2 separate regions of the Homo sapiens genome follow, and region 1 is linked to region 2. A link means that fine-mapping ties the variant in region 2 to the expression of a gene that starts in the linked region. Tissue or cell type: tibial nerve. Region 2 holds a variant in brackets; the other region holds the start of a gene. All regions are shown on one strand. Distances are between the middles of the regions.

Evidence for each region. PIP is the estimated chance that this variant, and not a neighbour inherited with it, causes the effect.
Region 1: it holds the start of PLXDC2, and the variant in region 2 is fine-mapped to the expression of PLXDC2 in tibial nerve (GTEx, PIP above 0.99).

Annotation. Positions count from the first base shown.
Region 1 is chr10:19,814,936-19,817,701 of GRCh38, forward strand. It overlaps PLXDC2 (plexin domain containing 2), which reads left to right and starts at 1,497. Exons shown (of 14, transcript NM_032812.9): 1 at 1,497-2,256. The coding sequence starts at 2,145. LOC124902388 (a long non-coding RNA gene) reads right to left here and starts at 1,293. Exons shown (of 2, transcript XR_007062078.1): 1 at 1-1,293. RefSeq lists an enhancer at 421-1,186.
Region 2 is chr10:19,781,756-19,784,521 of GRCh38, forward strand. No RefSeq gene overlaps it. Among named protein-coding and RNA genes, the nearest start is that of PLXDC2, 33 kb to the right of the region's middle. The variant T/C (reference allele first, on the strand shown) is at 1,173.

The sequences.
Region 1 (2,766 bases), 33 kb after region 2:
TTATCCGGATCCACTTCCAGTGGGTTTTGTGGCAAGCCGAGACATCTATTGACAGCATCCATAGACTCTTCAGAGCTTGGAGTGGAAAGGACCTTGAACTTAGAACACATGCACATTTATTATGTGATTGAAGTCGTCTTCTCTCACTTTTGCTTCAGTAAACACTTAAACAAAGCCATGTACTTTGCGGTAGGCAATGTTCTATATTTATTAAATATACAGTTAACTCATCCAATCCATTGCAACCACCTTATAAGGGCGTTACTCTAATTCTCTCCATTTGATGGATGGATAACTGAGGCTAGGAGATAAACTGCTCATTGCGGGGGAGGTGAAATTCCAGCCCAGGCTGTCCGGGCTCTAGATCCTGTACTTTTAACCAATAGCGCTTTGCTTCTTTTCCTTGTATTTATCCCTTTCAAAAATGATTAACTGTATGCAAAATAAGATATCAACTAACGAGAGGGCCGGCAAGGGTTAACGCGGAAACAGATCCCCGAGCTGAAAAAACAAAAACAAACTGGGGAGCCAGAGCCCCTGAAAGCTCCGGTAGGAAATTCAATGGGCCTCCTGTTCCTTTAAACTCTCGCTTTCGCCCCCGCTGACACTTTGCAAAGCCGCGGCGGCAGCGGCGGGGACCACGCTGCGGTGCACCACCTTCCGCCACCCTCCCGCGCTGGGCTGGGGTCGAGGGGGCTTCGCAGAGTCGGTAACCGAACCGGCTCTGGTTTGCTTTCTCCACTCCCTAGCCACTACCAGAACCAGCCTCCGCGAAGGGGCGAGCTGTGGTTAACCCTTTCGTGCCCAGGGAGACCCCGCCAGGGTCGGGGCGGGGCGCGATCGCCCCCCGCAGTCGGGCGCGAAGGCGGCCCGGGAGCCAGGTGGGTGTGGGGCGCAGTTGGCGGAGCTGCCCAGGGCGTGCGAGCAGGCTGCGAGGATGGCGCCCCGGCGGCGCGGAGGTACCGCCCCGCGCTCCCCCGATAGCTCCCCGGCCTGTCCCCTCTCCCCGCGCTCTGGGGCAGCCGGCTGCCTGGGGCGCACGGGGCTGGAGTGGCCCTCTCCCTCCCCTTCGCTAGGCTCCCCCGGCTTAATCTGTTGGCCGCGACTCCTCAGCCAGCCCCGAGGAAAGTGCAGCCATTGGACAGGTCTGTGCGGGCTGCCGGTTTCAGGGAGGAAGGTGGGAGAAGCCTGGAGGAGCGAAGGGGAGGGCGGAGGGAGGAGGGAGGAGGGTGCGGCGGCAGATCTGGCAAATTGCGAGCTGCCTTCCCTCCTCAAAGTGTGGAGAAGGAGCGCGGGGGAGCGTGGCGACGGCAGCGCCTCCTCCGCCACCAAACTCCTGGGGCTCCGCGGGGGCTTGGGGCCACCTCCTCCTGAGCCCGGAGGAACCCTCTCCCGATAGGTTCCAGCGTGACTCCCTCCCACTCCACCCTTTTCCTTTCTTCTTCCTCTTTTTTTTTTTTTTTTTTAAACACATTTTTTTCCTGGCTTCGGACCTCAGACTGCTGCAGCCCTAACCTTCCCAGGGCTCAGCTCTTTGGAGCTGCCCATTCCTCCGGCTGCGAGAAAGGACGCGCGCCCTGCGTCGGGCGAAGAAAAGAAGCAAAACTTGTCGGGAGGGTTTCGTCATCAACCTCCTTCCCGCAAACCTAAACCTCCTGCCGGGGCCATCCCTAGACAGAGGAAAGTTCCTGCAGAGCCGACCAGCCCTAGTGGATCTGGGGCAGGCAGCGGCGCTGGCTGTGGAATTAGATCTGTTTTGAACCCAGTGGAGCGCATCGCTGGGGCTCGGAAGTCACCGTCCGCGGGCACCGGGTTGGCGCTGCCCGAGTGGAACCGACAGTTTGCGAGCCTCGGCTGCAAGTGGCCTCTCCTCCCCGCGGTTGTTGTTCAGTGTCGGGTGAGGGCTGCGAGTGTGGCAAGTTGCAAAGAGAGCCTCAGAGGTCCGAAGAGCGCTGCGCTCCTACTCGCGTTCGCTTCTTCCTCTTCTCGGTTCCCTACTGTGAAATCGCAGCGACATTTACAAAGGCCTCCGGGTCCTACCGAGACCGATCCGCAGCGTTTGGCCCGGTCGTGCCTATTGCATCGGGAGCCCCCGAGCACCGGCGAAGGACTGGCGGGTGGGGTAGGGAGGTGGCGGCGGCGGCATGGCGAGGTTCCCGAAGGCCGACCTGGCCGCTGCAGGAGTTATGTTACTTTGCCACTTCTTCACGGACCAGTTTCAGTTCGCCGATGGGAAACCCGGAGACCAAATCCTTGGTAAGTAAGATGCACTTTAGCTTGCTGATTTTGTGCGCAGCTGAAGACCTCTCTGGCACTCTCGTGCTCCCTACCCTCTCCCCCCAACATCACCTATCTGCCCTTGGGAAACTTATTGCAGTTGCTTTTCGGCTAAACTTAGGCTTCCCAAATGGGGAAAGAGGGTTATCAAGAGAAGGACGCCGGGGACTAGGGGTTTTCTTGAGGCTTTCGGGCTTACTTCACCTGGGCGGCAGGGGGTGGTACTGTCTCCCCAAAGTAGCCCAGGGAGGGCTTCAGTGTGAGAGCAAAGCTTCTTCCGTGGATACATCTCCTAGGACCTGGCATCTCCAGGCTGTGTGCTCTCCGGCTCCTCCTCCTTCCTCGCTGCTGGTTAAACTAAGCGTGTGTGGTATGGGGTGGGTGGGGGACGTTGTGAAAGCCAGGGATTGCAGGTCTCCCCTCTGCACGAGAAAATTCCCTGTGGCAGCACCTTCCTTCCCCTGGCGATCCCCACTAGCTCCGTCTAGT
Region 2 (2,766 bases):
CATCAACCCCACCGCCTTCCCATTGCTATCTACTCTTTGACTTCCTACATCATATGTTAGTTACTGTCCTTTGTAAATGAAATAATATGTATTCTTTTGTATCTTGCTTTTTGTTTAACATTATATTTGTGAAATTCATTCATCTTGTGGCATTTTGCAGCAGTTTTCATTGTGAATGAATATGCCAAAAATTACTTATCCATTCTATTTGTTCATGGGCATTTTGGCCTGTTTCTAATTTGAAGTTATAGAAAGAGTGCTGTTTTAAATATTCTTGGACTTGCCTTGTGGTAAACATATGTATGCATTTTTTGCTAGATATTTATCTAAGAAAAGAAGTGCTACGTTTTCAGATGAACGTATGCTTAGCTTTAATACAAAAGGGTCACATCATGTAGTCTCAAACACCTTTATAGAAATCTCACATGATACTTCTGAGTATGTGTATCTCATTGTCCATAACCCAGCTGAAGGCCACATACCTAGCTTCAAGAAAGGGAAGGCAGCAATGGATTTTGGCTGGATCCATTCCCATCCTTAATAAAATCTGAATTCTGACACCAAGAAAGAAAGGGAGTATTGGTAATGCATGAAAAGCACAGGTCTCTGCCACACTAACTCTCCGTCAGCCCTTGCCATCTCAGGAAACAGAACTCTTGTCCACTTTGTGTTCCAGTAAAATATCCCAGGATCATTCTTCTCTCCTCCTACCCCCTTCCAGTCTATCAGCAAGTCTTCTTAGTTCTATTTCCCAAATACATCTTGACTGTATCATCTTCTCTCCTCCTCTGCTATCCCCTTAACATAAGCCACATCATCTCTTAGATAGACGCACTATTGCAGCTGCTTCCTGTTGGAGCTCTTTTGATCCAGTTTTGCTCCCCCACCATCCTTATAGCAATCAGTGTGGTTTGGTTTGGTTTTGCCTTCCTGTTTGGGGGGTTTATTTCCTTCCAATAACGCGACATTAGTTCCCTATCTAAAAGCTTTCAATGGCTTCCTTTTGTACTTAACAGTAAAAATTCAACTTCCTAACACTGGCCCTCGTGAACATCTACATGTTCATTCCATTCTCATCCTCTGCTTCAGCTACAAAAGCTTCACATACATCAAATTCTTTCCCACTTCGTGATCTTTGCCCCAGAACATACTGCTTCCAAGTTTTATGGTTT[T/C]GTTTGCTCATTTTGTTTGCAGTTTGTCTCCCACCATGGGAACGTAGGCATTGTGAATGTAGGGCTTGTCTGAGCTCTGTACCCAAAGGGACCAGCCTAAACCCTTGTGGTGGTGAACAATGTTGAATGAACAAATGCATCTCTTATTTGTGAACCTATGAACAATTTTGATTTCTTATTATGGCTTATACTCTATTCTAAATATTCTCAATATTCTTTAGCAAACATGGATTGCTCTTGAATGTTAAAAAGGTTTAATTTAGTGACTACGTTAAATAATTTGCCGTGTATAATTTTTAAGTCTGAAGTTAATTAATTAGTAATGTCAACTAATATTTTGCAGCAGCACCTAGAATACTTAATATATAGTGTAGGAACATCAGGTAACAAACAAATCAACCCACATTATAACTTCGAGGAACTTGTGATTCTGAAATGAGAGCTAAGAAATAAACATAGCTATCTATATTCTAATCCAGACTTTTTAAGTTCTAGAAAAGGTACATAAGTTAAACGTGAGTGATTACTATATAATTTTTTCTCATTAAATGTTGTTATAATGGGTCTCAAAATTCTGTGGCAGATTTTTGATCAAGTTGTTTCCATTAAAAATTACTCACTTTAAAAGCTAATAACTTAAAACTGCCCCATGCAGAAAAGGCCAAAATAGTCCACAAAACATTCTTCTTTTCTTCTAAAGGTTTTATGGTGCGTTGTTATCATTACCCAGTTTTTTACTATTAAACTTAAATGGCCAATTGAAACAAAGAGTTCTGAGACTATTCTTGTACCACTTATTAAGACTGTGATGGCAGGTGTTACGGATAATTTCATTTAGCCACACAATATGGTTTGGATTTGTGTCCCTGCCCAAATCTCCTGTGGAATTGGAGGAGGGGCCTGGTGGGAGGTGACTGGATCATGGAGGTGGATTTCCTCCTTGCCGTTCTTGTGCTAGTGAGCGTCCCTTGTGCAGCTGTTATGTAAAGTAACATAACAATTCCATTCAGGTATTGGAATGTTAATACCATTCAGGTATTCAAGGCGATACCATTCAGTACATAGGAATAAGCAAAGATTTCCTGATGAAGATGCCAAAAATTATCTCAGCAAAAGCAAAAATTCAAATTGTTGCTTGATCTTACAGCAAATATTTCTCCATCTTATTTCATGTTTTGTCATTATTTACCCTAAAAGCAAATCTAACATAAAAATAAGAAAAGAATTAAAAAAAAAAACATAAAAACAAATAACAAAGAAAAACACCACTCTCTGAAGCAAGTTCCCAAGTATGCCTGCAATTGCTGTCTAGATACTAGGAAGGTATTTTCCAGCACTTGGTCTGACTCCGCAATGCTGTTCAGCTTACTTCAGGGAAAATGAGCAGCTTATTTGATATATGCTGGATTAATCTGCCTTTTCTACAGGATAACATCCTCAGGGAAAGGCACCATTCAGAAATCAAAGCTGAAAAACTTTAAGACTTCCAAAGAACACTAGAGATACGGTATAACTGAAGTTAAAAAGAAACATTTAATAGCCTTAGTTTATCTTAAAAAATAAATGCCTCATGACATTGAAAGATGTTTAGTAA